4 linked regions of the Homo sapiens genome follow. The protein of the gene in region 2 purifies or fractionates together with the protein of the main gene of each other region. This does not show direct contact. Each region holds a gene or a part of one and is shown on either strand. Other genes may lie near its edges. The genes, in order: MIX23, TIAL1, MOV10 and SULF2.

The links.
Region 1: the proteins of TIAL1 (region 2) and MIX23 fractionate together in Homo sapiens (co-fractionation; one large-scale study listed by BioGRID). This does not show direct contact.
Region 3: the proteins of TIAL1 (region 2) and MOV10 purify together in Homo sapiens (affinity purification with western blotting; one study listed by BioGRID and IntAct). This does not show direct contact.
Region 4: the proteins of TIAL1 (region 2) and SULF2 purify together in Homo sapiens (co-immunoprecipitation; one large-scale study listed by IntAct). This does not show direct contact.

Annotation. Positions count from the first base shown.
Region 1 is NC_000003.12:122,376,704-122,380,272, forward strand, and holds part of MIX23 (protein MIX23), read right to left. Parts: intron 1-3,569.
Region 2 is NC_000010.11:119,586,900-119,590,468, forward strand, and holds part of TIAL1 (nucleolysin TIAR), read right to left. Parts: intron 1,350-3,569; coding exon 1,253-1,349; intron 1-1,252. UniProt on the Homo sapiens protein: RNA-binding protein involved in alternative pre-RNA splicing and in cytoplasmic stress granules formation. Shows a preference for uridine-rich RNAs.
Region 3 is NC_000001.11:112,695,116-112,698,684, reverse strand, and holds part of MOV10 (helicase MOV-10), read right to left. Parts: intron 3,270-3,569; coding exon 3,111-3,269; intron 2,538-3,110; coding exon 2,434-2,537; intron 2,249-2,433; coding exon 2,151-2,248; intron 2,056-2,150; coding exon 1,839-2,055; intron 692-1,838; coding exon 574-691; intron 399-573; coding exon 207-398; intron 48-206; coding exon of another isoform or gene 12-47; exon of another isoform or gene 1-11.
Region 4 is NC_000020.11:47,778,926-47,782,494, forward strand, and holds part of SULF2 (extracellular sulfatase Sulf-2 isoform a precursor), read right to left. Parts: intron 730-3,569; exon of another isoform or gene 1-729. UniProt on the Homo sapiens protein: Exhibits arylsulfatase activity and highly specific endoglucosamine-6-sulfatase activity. It can remove sulfate from the C-6 position of glucosamine within specific subregions of intact heparin.

The sequences.
Region 1 (3,569 bases), on a different chromosome or scaffold from region 2:
ACTCAAAACAGAAAATCAAATACCAAATGTGCTTGCTTATAAATGGTAGCTAAACAATGGGTACATATAGACATAAAGATGGAAAGAATAGACATTGGGGACTCCAAAGGGCAAGGGTAAGGAGGAAGGTGGGGGGTGAAAAATTACCTGTTGGGTACTATGTTCATAATTTGTGTGATGGGTAAATTAGAAGGCTATCAAGCAGGTGCAGTGGCTCACACCTGTAATCCCAGCACTTTGGGAGGCTGAGGTGGGTGGATCACGAGGTCAGGAGTTTGAGACCAGTTTGGCCATGGCAAAACCCCGTCTTTACCAAAAATACAAAAAATTAGCCGCGCATGGTGGCGCACACCTGTAGTCTCAGCTACTTAGGAGGCTAAGGCAGGAGAATTGCTTGAACCCAGCACGCAGAGGTTGCAGTGGGCTGAGATCACGCCACTGTACTCCAGCCTGGGTGACAAAGCGAGACTCCATCTCCGAAAAGAAACCTGTATATGTACCCCCAAATCTAAAATTTTTTAAATTAGAAAAAACAAAAAACAAAAAACAAAGCTCTGTTTTGGACTTGTTAACGTTTGAGATGCCTATTAGATATCTGAGTAGAAGAGTGGAATAGAAAGTAGAGTATGCCAGTCTGACACTGATCGGGGTGGAGTTATATTAATAAACTGATGTTCTTTAAAACCATGAAACTAGAAGAGATCACTGGAGGAGACTGTAGAAAGCGAAGGAGGCCAATGATTAAGGAATTCTTACATCTAAAAGTAAAGGAAAAATTCTGTGATGTCACGGAAGTCAGAAGAAAGGTTTAACGGAGGGATTGGTCATTTGTGTTGAATGTTACTAACTCAAGAATTATATGGGGCCAGGTGTGGTAGCTCACATCTGTAATCCCAGCTCTTTGGCAGATTCAGGCGGGAGGACTGCTTACGGCTAGGAGTTCAAGACCAGCCTGGGCAACACAGTAAGACTCTGTCTCAACAAAAGTAAAAAATTTAGCCAAGCATGGTGGCATGTGCCTACAGTCCTAGCTACTTGGGATGCTGGGGCAGAAGGATCACTTGAGCCCAGGAGTTCAAGGTTACGGTTACCTATGATGTGCCACTGCCCTCCAGCCTTGGTGACTATGTCTCAAAAAAATTTTAAATGAATAAATGATTATATGAACAGAAATTAAACTTTTAAACTTAGCAGGATGGAAATCAAGGGTGACCTTAAAGAGAGCCATATAAATAGAGTGTTTAATGGACTGAAAAGGTAATGTGGCTTAAGTACACAGAGAAAGATAAAACATGGTGTAACATGAGGTCCATTATTAGAGGTCATATGATAGGATTTTAGTCTTTTCTGAGACCCACAGGGAACCAAACATGTGTTTTCTGTTGTGATTAAGGTTACATGATCAGATCTGTGTTCTAAAATGACTGCTTAGATTAAAGTGGACTGCAGAGGAACTAGAGTAGGTGTCAAAAGATCAGTTAGACGACTGCAGCAATCCACGTGAAAGATTACATCGTTTGACATTTCCTGGGGTTTGTGTTGACTCTGAACTTTAACCAGTTTTGAGTTTGAACACTTTAGCCCGATTCATCTCCAATAAAACAATTTGGACATACTACTAAATTCCTTACATAGCAATGGGAATCTATCCACATTAACTATGTAATGAGTCCATCAATTTTATTGTATTACCAGTGGAACCTATGGATTATCAAATAGTCATGTAGTGCTTAATGACAAGGAAACATTCTGAGAAATGTGTCATTGGGTGATTCTGTTGTGTGAACATCATAGAGTGTACTTACACAAACCTAGATGGTATGGCCTACTTACACACTTAGGCTATATAGTATAGATGATTGCTTTTAGGCTACAAACCTATACAGCAGGTTACTGTACTGAATGCTGTGGGCAACTGTAACACAGTGATACTTGTGTATCTAAATATATCTACATATGGAAAAGGTGCAGTAAAAATATGGTGTTATAATCTCATGGGACCACCGTTGTATATGTAGTCAGTCACTGACTGAAACATCATTATGTGGAGCATGACTCTGTATCAATTTTTCTGTGTGTACTAGAGAATTATCAATATATGATCTAGAGCTTGCCTTTAACATGGCAGACATTAGCCATGTGAGATTATTTAAATTAAAATTAAATGCAATTTAAAATTTAGTTCCTTAATTGCACTAGTCACATTTCAAGTATTCAAGAGCCACCTGTTGCTAGTGGCTATCATATGGAGATAGCATAAATGCAAAACATTCCCACCATCACAGAAAGTCCTACTGGACAGTGCTATATTCTAGAAAATATAATGACAACCCCTAAACTGATAATGTACTTGTTCAGGAATTGCTGAAAACTGTATGCCATTCTTAAATGTCACAGAAGAGATACCAGAAAAGCTAAAGAGAAAGAAAAAAAGGGAGGTAAAATGATTGGGGAAGGAAACATTGTAGCGAAATAAAGTGTGGGTGATGAAGTAGTAGAGGCATGCCATTTAGTCAATCATTTCAGCTATGAAAAGAAGGAGATTCGAATTTTATTTATAGGAACCTGTTGAGAACAGTGAATGTTCTGTCCAACATAGTAGCCCCTCAGTGTTTTTGTGGTGTAATGAGACAGGAAGTGATTTCTTTCAAAATTGAAAAGGGAGAAGGAAAAGAACTGTAAACCGTCTCACCAGGCTCACATTTCTTCACAGGGAAAAAAGTGCCAAAGCTGTTAAGGCAACTCCAAGAGGTTCTAGGCAAAAGTTCGGGCTGCCCTCACACATTGTGAGCAAACGAAGGTGAATGAAGGCACAAAAATGCTGCCATTGAATTATGTGGATCATCCATAAGGAATTACTGACTACCTACCGGAGGCTTAGCCCCAATGGCATACACTCCTGTCCAGAAATTCACCAAGAAAATACATAGAAGACACCCCTGAACAGAACAGACATTATACACAATAAACTGCAACACCTGTCCACAGAAATAACACAGAAATACACACAGTTCAATGGTTCTCTGAAGGCTGCATCTTGTGTAGAACCCTCATGAGCTTCTAAACATTAAATCACAGCCAAAGATAACTTTATAAATTCTGTAGTACTCCCAGCTTCTTCTATCTTTCATCCTCCTCAAAACAAGAAGAGATCTGATATATCATGAACCTCTCATTGTAGGCTGACTCTGAAATTATGCAGGCGTTTTTCTTGGAATGCATTTTATGTCTTCTCTGTAATTGGTGGGGTAAAAATCTCATCCTCTTGGAAGGCAATTTAGGTATTGAAGGAGTGCCTATATTTAGTAGTGGGAAGGGGTAGAGAAAACTTTCTGTTGCCCCTACAATTATACTATAGTCTATTCCTAAGATTCATTCTCAGGTAAAGTTATTTTATAATTCTACATATTTTTTAGGGTACATAGGGGTGAGGAGTAGGAAAGGGGCCATTATATAACTAAAATACACTGTACTCCAAAGAATGATATGGAACTCCCTTAACCTTTCCTCTCCTCTCCCTTTGCCTGATGGTACCCAGAAGTAATGTCATTGGTACTTGACATCAAAGT
Region 2 (3,569 bases):
AACTCTGTTTTATTCTCTTCATGGCTTACATCCCTATTTGCTTGGGAAACTCATTTGGCTGTCTCTCCATTATATCTCCAGTACCTTGTATAGTGCCTAGTGCAAAGGAAATTTTTGATCGATGAAAGCACAAATAAATAATTAAAGGCAGGAAGGAAAAATATAATACACCAGAACAAAATGATGATTGTCATTACTTGGGAAAGACAATCAAAAGGCCAATGCACTTTAAAGGTTTTTAACAGTTCTCCGTTTCAGGATAAAACAAACTCTTTAGCACAGTTTCTAGCCCTTTCCATAAACTCCTGCCATCTCTTACGACTAATTCCATTTTAACTACAACCATGCTACGGGTTCTATTTTTCCCTCTCTGTCTCAAGCACTCCTGCTCTCCCTACCAACCTGGATCAAAGTTCCCTTTATTTGGAATCCCTTCTTCCCTCAATTCCTTTCTAGCCAGTATGTACTACTATCCTTTCAAGGTTTCCGCCTAGGCAGTGAGTCCTCCAAGAAGCCGCTCACTGACCTAAGGCTGCACTGGATACACATTTGCTCCCACAGCACTTTAAGTTGTCTGCTTCTAGAGCATTTATTATCCTACTTCCTAAGTGCCTGCTAACTCCTTTGTCTCCCTACTAAACTGTAAAATTCTCTGGGCCAAGGAACTATCTTTATTCACCAGTGTATCTCTAGCACTTACTGCAGTATCTAGTACATAGGAAATAGTCCAAAAAAAAAAAAGAAAGCTGATCAATGAACAAAAACACAAGGAAGAAAAGCCTAAAACATGACTAATTGGGTGCTGCTACAGTCTTAGCAGGAAAGTATAAAAAGGTAAGTATTTGCTACAGACACACGAGACGAACGGTGCTGCACACTACACACATAATAACTTCGTGTTCTCGCACATGAACACATGCTGTCTAAATCGTTAACATTCTTATTGGAATTGTATGAAATACTTTCCAATTTTTCACCATTCTGAAATGAGCTCTAATAATGTTCTGAAAGCAGAATCACTTCAAGATAACCACACCATGAAGAATGACCGTTTGAGCTTAACAGCACGGAAACTTTGCCCTCTTAAATAAAACTCCATTCTAAGCCTAGTTTGTCAGCCAAATCAAAGTAATAAGTCAACACAACACAAATCTCTCCACCAGAATAACTTGAGGCTTACAATGAAATTTTAAAATCATGCTAATCAACCCATCATGCTAATTGTCAGCACATGGAACTGGGAAGATCTTACCTCTGTTATCATTTTACAGCTTTTACAGGGTCCAATCTGACTGAACAACTGAAGTATAAGGACTTCTGTCACATCTCTGGAAAGGTTACCTACGTATCTGCACAAGAAAAAAATACGTTATCAGCAATTTTTCCTTTAGCTCTGGCTCTAATGTGTTATCATCTAATTCATCACCTTTTCTTTCTTTCTTTCTTTCTTTCTTTTTTTTTTAGATGGAGTTTTGCTCTTGTTGCCCAGGCTGGAGTGCAATGGCATGATCTCAGCTCACTGCAACTTCCGCCTCCCAGATTCAAACGATTTTCCTGTCTCAGCCTCCCAAGTAGCTGGGATTACAGGCGCATGCCACCATGCCTGGCTAATTTTTGTATTCTTAGTAGAGACAGGGTTTCATCGTATTGGTCAGGCTGGTCTTGAACTCCTGACCTCAGGTGATCTGTCCGCCTTGGCCTCCCAAAGTGCTGGAATTACAAGCGTGAGCCACTGCGCCCGGCCACCTTTTATTTCATTTTAACTTCCTCTGTTTTCAACAAAATTTCTCCAATTAAACCTGATCCTATGAAAGTAAGATTAACCCTTATTTAGGAAAGCAACAATTGTTCTTAGGCCACTAAAATACCACTCTGAAAGACATTTAAAGAACAAATCAATGTGATCTTGTATACCCCAATGGCATTATTATTCTGTACCCTGGATATCATTTTCTCATCTTATTCTAATTGTTAAAATTTTAAACTGGTCTCAAGATAACTACAATTTCTAATTAAAAATAATTTATAACACACACACACATACAACAAATACTAATTCATTAAAACATCTGATTGTAATAGGATATTAAACATAAAGTGAGTTTATCTTAGATTCCCAACCAAAGCAATTACATGAACAAAGAACAGAATTAAAGTTATAGTAAAACATACAGAGGGTGGAGGGTTTTTGTTGTTTTGTTTTTGGCTGAGTAAGGTTGTTTGCAATGATGTCTTCACTGTTTCATTTTAGGAGAGCAGGGTAAAATATAAAATTTCCTAGTCTAAAATGCATCAGAATCAACAAAATATATATGTATTTTTTTGAGATGGAGTCTCACTCTGTCACCCAGGCTGGAGTGCAGTGGCATGATCTCAGCTCACTGCAACCTCCGCCTCCCAGGTTCAAGCGATTCTCCTGCCTCAGCCTCCCAGGTAGCTGGGACTACAGGCGTGCACCACCACGCCCGGCTAATTTTTGTATTTTTAGTAGAGACGGGGTTTCACCATGTTGGCCTGGCTGGTCTCAAACTCCTAACCTCAAGTGATCCACCTGCCTGAGTCTCCCAAAGTGCTGGGATTACAGGAGTGAGCCACCATGCCCAGCCAACAAAATATATCTTAATGTAGATAAAAAAGCTAATACAAAGATTTCTTAAGAAATTCAGAGAAAAACTAAGACAAATCCAGGCATACTTTTGACTATGGACACTTAAAAATTTGGGTTTTTTTTCCTAATTACAATTGAATGTGTTTTGTGTAAAAGATTTTAAATACAGGAAAGTTTAAAAAAGAAAAGAAAAAAATGCTACTTCATCACACAGAGAGGACCACCTTGGTTTATGTCTTGTACTATGGATTTATCTTAATTTATCTAAATAAATTGCCAAACACTAAAGTCTTTCTGGTATTCTACACATAATTCCTCAAATTTGCATCTGTTATGAACAACCTCATAAACCAAACAATATCTGTAAAATTTAACAAAGTTCATTCTGGAAAGTAGATTTCTTTTTCTACTTGTAATATATTACATCTGGAAACTGAGTATTAAGACCAAAATAAGACTTGCAACATAGCTGCCACATTAAATACACAACATGCTTTAAGATGGAATACTCAAAGGGAAAAATAGACTGAGAAAGCTTAGGTTAAGTAAAAAACTTAAAAGATCCAATTAAGAATTAGTAGCGATTTTCCAGTTAAGAATTTTATTGCAATGAGTACTAATAATCTTAGTGTACCTGCTCTAAAATTGAAACACACATCCAATATTACCTAACTAGAGGACTAAACAAGTGACAAACTGTTTTACGTCCACTATGCCACCTTTTCCACGTAATTAAGGAGCTGATCCATCAGCAGGCCAATGTAGTGACATACTTTTTCCAGCAGGACTAAAAGGTTATTGGGTTATGAGCCAGCGATAGGCTGCTTGCCCCTTCTTAACTCATAGGGGTTTGTGAGCCTGTATCTCTGAAATGATTTCTTTTTGTACAGAGTAGACCTATCTGTAAGAAAAATGAACAAGTGACCAGGCATGGTGGCTCACGCCTGTAATCCCAGCACTT
Region 3 (3,569 bases), on a different chromosome or scaffold from region 2:
GTGCCATTAACCTAATGCAAGAGGGAGCCTGGCAGGAGGCCAGGGAGCTGGGGAACAAAGGGAGGCGGCAGCTGACCTTGGTGCTCTTCTGAGATACGGAGCCAGCAGAGGCCTAAGCTCCTGGAGCCTCTGCCTAGTGGTCTGGATATTAAGGAGGTACCATCTGGGGGAGGGGCCCCACCCTTGCTGGTAACTGAGGACCTGACCTGTTTCCGGTACGGGGAGATGACGCCCACACTTCGAGGGCTCAGGCGAGCTTTGCCCTTCTTGGAGGAGGGGGCCAGGAGCAGCTTCAGGTAGGAAGTCACTGTGGCAGCCTCTTCAGGGTTGAAGAAGGATGGGCTGTTGCCTTCACGCTCATCTTTGCCCATTACGCCGTGAAAGATGATGGGAAAGCCCTGGACATGGGGTCGGGGGAAACCGTCAGCCAGACCACCCTCCCTCTATTCCCTCCCTTCCCAAACCCTTCCAGAGAGTAAGAGATCCTAGGCCAAGGTGACAAAGGGAGGGGCTGCACCTTCAGTGGGAGGGAAGTCAGGGTACAGGGGTGGGGCCTGCCCTGCTCAGCCTCACCTGTCGAGGTAGGCCCGCCCAGCGGCAGAAGCGTTCTCGATCCACGACATCAGCACAGGCCTGCAGCTCCCCTTCATAATAGAGCTGGTTAGGAATGTCCAGGATGGTGGGATGAGACCTGGGAGGCCGGAGGAGGAAAAGCAAGACCAAGGGTCAGATTCCCTCTGCCCTACAGGGGCTCCGCTCTACCCACTCTGGGCCCACACACAATAGCCTGCTACCCCGCTGGCTCCCTGGATAGCAGGACACTCCTCCATAATATCTGCTGCCAGGCACTGTAAACCACAGAAAGCAGAACCAAATATAGTTCCAGAGAGCATCTAGTCCAGGGACTCCACAGACCCATGACATTTAAAACTAAATAATTAGGGGCCCATTTTCAGGTTTCAAATTTACCAAGGACAGTACGAAACCAAATTCTCCTTGACTATCACGTTATTTGATGAGACCATGTGTTAAATCAAAAAATATAAGCAGTGATGACACAATAACTAACATTTATTGAGCTCTTAGTGACAGCATAAAACTTATCTAAGCATTTTAGATGGCTGAACTCATTCACTAAAAGTATACAGCTCTTTAATTTGAATAACAATAGGTTTATGAAAAAACTGTATCTTCCCTATTTTTCTTTCTTTTTTTGAGATGGAGTCTCGCTCTGTCACCCAGGCTAGACTGCAGTAGCGCGATCTCAGCTCACTGCAACCTCTGCCTCCCGGGTACAAGCGATTATCCTGCCTCAGCCTCCCAAGTAACTGGAATTACAGGTGCCTGTCACTATGCCTGGCTAATTTTTGTATTTTTAGTAGAGATGGGGTTTCACCATGTTGGACAGGCTGGTCTCAAACTCCTGACCTCAAGTGATCGGGGGTGGGAGCCTGACCTACCTTGGCCTCCCAAAGTGCTGGGATTACAGCCATGAGCCACTGTGCCCGACCTCCTCCCTATTTTTCTTATCTCTCCTTGGATTGCCTGAAAACTTCATCTGGGACTGGTACCAGACACACCCTAGCCTCTAGGAACCACTGACCACCCCCTAAGATGCAGATAAGCTGACTGGTGTAGTGTGAAACCACTGGCTAAGTCACGCAGACAACAAGCAGCAGTGCTGGGGCTAGAAAAACCTCCTGCCTTCCAGTTTAGTCTTTCTGCATCACACAACCTCTGAGCAACAGGACTGACAGCAAGCCAGACTCTCCAGTGGGGTCTGCATGCAGGATGTGAAAGCATAGGATATGGCAGGGGAGGCAAGGGCATGGGAATACCTGTAGTTGCGGAGCAGCTTGGTTATGAACTGGGGGTCATAGCCATCAGGGCCCTTCTTGTACAGGGAGTTGTAGGTGAGCAGCCGCTCCAGCAGTGAGTATCCCAGTCCATGCTTCTGGGTCAGTGGGGAACGCAGCACAGGCCCCAGCTGCCGAGGGTCTCCTGCCAGCACCAGCTGCCCTCCTGGATCACCTGTTTCCTTTACTTCCATCAGCCCTGGGAAGCAGAAGAGGTGTGGGAAGAAAGGTAAGTGGTGCAACCTCTCTGACCCACACAGGGTGTATACCTGCAGCCCCACCTGAGTCCCTCACCTGCTATAGCTACCAGACTCTCAGGCTCCATGCAGTGGCCAGCCTCATCGATGAAGATGTGTGTGAAGTGATCAATGGGAAACTGGGCCGAGACCAACCTGGGAGGTGTCAGGCCAGGCAGGGGTCATATCCAGGCACCCAACTACCAAACCTGAATGCTTTCCCAGGCTGGCTTCTCAGCACCCACCACCCCACTCCGGAAACCATTCTTCCCCATTTCCCCAGCCCGGTACCCCTTTAATTACACTTACGATTCAGAGACACACCCACACACACTCCCCACCTGCCGGCAGTGATGAGGGTGGTAATTAAGACCCGGTATTCCTGCAGCTTCTTCTTGGCGGGAAATACATACTCCCCCTTCTTTGCGTCCCAGTTGCAGCAGGGCTGTGGATTGTGAAGGGACCAGAGGAATCAGCTTGGCTCCACTCATTCCCACCGTGATTCTGGCTGTGGGTACCCCCCCTCAAACAATTATTTTTATTTTTTTTAATTGAGACGGAGTCTCGCTGTCCCCCAGGCTGGAGTGCCATGGTGTGATCTTGGCCCACTGCAACCTCCGCCGCCTGGGTTCAAGCAATTCTCGTGCCTCAGCCTCCCGAGTAGCTGGGGCTACAGGCACGCGCCACCATACTCAGCTGATTTTTTTGTATTTTTAGTAGAGACGGGATTTTGCCATGTTGGCCAGGCTGGTCTCAAACTCCAGACCTCAGGTAATCCATCTGCCTCGCCCCTCAAAGTGTTGGGATTACAAGTGTAAGCCACTGCACCCAGCCCCCCAAATGTTTTATCCACCCCCCTCACTTACAGACAAACTGAGGCCCAGGGAGGGGTCCTGTCCAACCCAAGGTCACATAGCAAGTATCAGAATCCAGGTCTCCTAGCTTCCTCGCCTCAGTGTCTGCCCTGAGAGCCTCCCCGGCATTTGCCATTCTTTGGCCCTCTGCACTTCCCTAGTACCTTGATGTCCTCAGGTACCATGCGGATGTCCCTGCTGGGGGCCAGGAGGCGGTAGATGGAGCTAGGAAGGTGGACCCGGAGCCTTTGACAGAGTAGGTCAGCCCCTGAGTTGGATGGAGCGCAGGCCAAGATGTGGGCTTTGGGCAAGTGCTTCACCACCTGAGATGCAGATAAGCGCAGTGTGGGAGGCAGGTTCCTGAGACTCAGCCGTACCCAGGCTGGGGCAGGGCAAGTCTATGATGACTGAAATGTGAATGGTGACTCCAAGATTCATGCAGTGCCCTACCCGTACAACAGTGCTCCACAGCCACATTTACCCTAACTTCCCACTTCCCCAATCCCCACCCTTTTTTTTGAGACAGAGTCTCACTCTGTCACCCAGGATGGAGTGCAGTGGCACAATCGCACTGCAGCCTCAAGTGCCCAGCTATTTTTCATATTTTTCATAGAGATAGGGTC
Region 4 (3,569 bases), on a different chromosome or scaffold from region 2:
GCCGATAACTCCCAAACTTAGGTTGCCAGCCCCGACCGGCTGCAGACATCCACGTTCACCACCCACTGAGCTTTCAGACATCCAGGTGGGGTTCATCTCAAACCCAACATTTCCACGTCGGAATTCCAGATCACTCCTCCTCCCCAAAACCTTCTCTCCTATCTTCCCTATTTAGCAATCACCACGCACCAGGCTGCCTAGTCACCTTTGACTCCTTGGCAGGATACATCATGAATATTTGGGCTGAATCATTTTTCACTGTGGGGTCATCCCGTACATTGCAGGTTAAGCAGCATCCCTGGCCTCTACCCTCTAGATGCCAGTAGCAACCCTTCCCCAGTTGGGACAACCTATACTGTCTCCGGATAGTGTTAAAATGTTTTCTGGGTGTCAAAATCACCCTCGGTTGAGAATCAAAGCCCTTTCCCTCACTCTGTAATCCAATCCACTAGGAAGTCCTGTGGGCCCTACCTCCAAAATACATCTCCAATCCCCATTTCACTCCATCTCCATTGATACCACCACGGTCCAAGCCACTCTCGGGCCCTCTCTGTTGCCTAACAGTCCCGGTGATACCACTTCCATCTGCACAGCACGCCTCTCACAGGAGCCAGCAGGATCTTCTTGAAACACAAATCATATCATTCTCTGACTTAAAACCCTCCAATGGTTCTCCATTTTATTTTTTAATTTATTTTTGAGATGGAGTCTTGCTCTGTCACTCAGGCTAGAGTGCAATGGCACAATCTCAGCTCACTGCAACCTCCACCTCCTGGGTTCAAACGATTCTCCTGCTGCAGCCTCCCGAGTAACTGGGATTACAGGTGTGCGCCACCGTGCCTGGCTAATTTTTGTATTTTTAGTAGAGATGGGGTTTCACCATGTTGGCCAGGCTAGTCTTGAACTCCTGACCTCAGGTGATCCACCCGCCTTGGCCTCCCAAAGTGTTGCGATTACAGGCATAAGCCACCGCGTCCAGACAGTTATCCATTTTATTTAAAATAAAGTCTAAAATTTCTTAGCATGGCCTGTATTTCTCATCTCTGACGTGCCCTCCCCCACTTACTCCTGACCCTCTACCCTAGTTGACTTTTTTTTTTTTTTTTTTTGAGACAGAGTCTGACTCTGTTGCCCAGGCTGGAATGCAGAAGTGTGATCCCGGCTCACAGCAACCCCTGCCTCCCGGGTTCAAGTGATTCTCCTGTCTCAGCCTCCCAAATAGCTGGGACTACAGGCACGTGCCACCACACCTGGCTAATGTTTGTATTTTTAGCAGAGATGAGGTTTCACCGTGTTGGTCAGGCTGGTCTTGAACTCCTGACCTCCAGTGATCTAACTGCCTCAGCCTCCCAAAGTGCTGAGATTTCAGGCGTGAGCCACCACGCCTGGCCTACCCCACTTGACTTCTATTTGTGTTTGGGGCAGGTGTCTTGGACAGGCCCCTCCCACCGCCTCTGGGCCTTTGCACTAGCTGTTCCTTCTACCTGGCATGCTCTTCCCCCAGATCTTTCCAAGGCGGACTCCTTCCTAAAATCTAGGTCACAGTTCAAAGGTCACATCCTCACAGAGGCCTCCCTGACAGCCTGCCTAAAGTTGCCTCCCACCCCATCACATCATGCAGTCATTTTTCTTTTAAATTTTTTTTTGAGACTGAGTCTCACTTTGTTGCCCAGGCTGGAGTGCAGTAGTGCGATCTCAGCTCACTGCAACCTCCGACTCCTGGGTTCAAGCGATTCTGGTGCCTCAGCCTCCTGTGTAGCTGGAATTACAGGCAAGCACCATCACACCTGGCTAATTTTTGTATTTTTAGTAGAGAGAGGGTTTTGCCATGTTGGCCAGGCTGGTCTCAAACTCCTGACCTCAAGGGATCCTCCCACCTCGGCCTCTCAAAGTGCTGGGATTATAGGCATGAGCCAGCACGCCAGGCCTAGAGCATTTTCCCCGCCTTCTGACAGCCCCTGCATTAGGCAGGAAGACAAAGAGGCCCACGCTCCAGAGCTCTCTTCGCCAAACCCTCCTGCTGATATAGAATATACACATGACATATTGGTCATGCCCCCCAGCATCCAGGACCCTCCCTAGAAGTTTGATTCAACAGGATCTGGTCTTTGCCTTTTTAAACAAATACAGCCAGATGATTCTCATGGTGGGAGGTTAGACAAACACTGCCCCTGGCCCCCCGAAAGCACAGGATCAAGGCCAGGCCCCATCCTTCAGACAGTAAGGCAGAAAAGTCAGGCCTTTGATGCCTCCTGGCCCTGGTGGAAGGGAGAGGCATTGCCCAGGCAGCGTGTTTCCCCAGTCTCCACCTTGGCCAAAATGAAGATGGGTCCATCTGGCCAGCATTGCTCACATTAGTGGCCCATCATCGCAGGCACTGGCCATCTGCCTCTCCAGCAACCGGGCTTCCCTTTCACTGGGGACTCCCCGTGCTGTTTTATTCCAGGCTTTGGGGTCTCAGCAGTCAGCCTCCATCCAGCTCCAGGGAGAGGCCTGTGAGCCTGGCTTAAGCCAATTGTTGGCAACTCATTTCCTTAGCCAGTGACTGGTTTGGACAAAAAACAGTCCAATCAGAGGGAACCATGGGGCTCAGGTGTGCATTGCCAGATCAGAGGCTTGTTCTTTCCTTTTGGGCTTAAACCAGAGGGGATGAGACCCCTCTGCTCCATGACATCTGTCCTGACACCTAAGTTATGGTAACAGTCAATGCCTACTGAAGGCTCACCTGGGTCAGACGCCCTGCTAAGCACTTGACATTGATCATCTCATTTCATGCTTACCACAAGCAGGAGACAGGTGCTATGATCATCATCATTTGTTGGATGTGAACATCAAGGCACAGAAAGGTTAAGTAGCATGCCCCAGATCCCACTGCTGGGCAGGGAGCCAGGCAGTCTGGCTCTCCTAGCCACGGTGCCCACAGCTGCCAGGGACTGCCCGCCCCAGAGCTGGAGAGACATCAGCCTCATGGAAGGCAGAGGAGCGGTGGATAGGAATGGATTCTCATTACAAAATCTGAGCTGTGGGTCCAGCTGTGTCTGAAGCTAGAGTTAGTCACCTTAAGACTTTTGGTTATGAAAACCAGTAAGTCCACTTCTTTTCTCCTTAAGCTGGCTTGAGTTTTTTTCTTCTCTTTTTCCGTTGCTTGCAAGAGAAAGGAACCTGATTACTTTACAGTTCTTCTAGGCAAGTACCCCTAACTGATACTCCATTTGCAACTTGCACACAGCAGCTGCTCAGTAAACACCAGCAGATACGGATGGACTGCTCTCCCTTCCGGTCCATTCACTGCTGGATCTGTACCCTGACACCCAACTGTGGCCAGCCCAGCGCTTCTTCCCCTTTAGGCTCCAAGTGAGGCCTCGTTCCCTAGCAACCACCCCAATTAGGCAACCATGCCATTTATCGGGATGCCAATTAATTATAACGATCTTAATGCCCTCCCAATTAGACAGTGCCTTCAATCCGGCTGGGCCAGGGCTGTCTGTAGATCTCCACCAAGGCCCATTCCAAGGAGGCCCAGAGAAAGCAGGTTTCAGGGAGGGCCCCCTCACCTGCAGATCAGCATT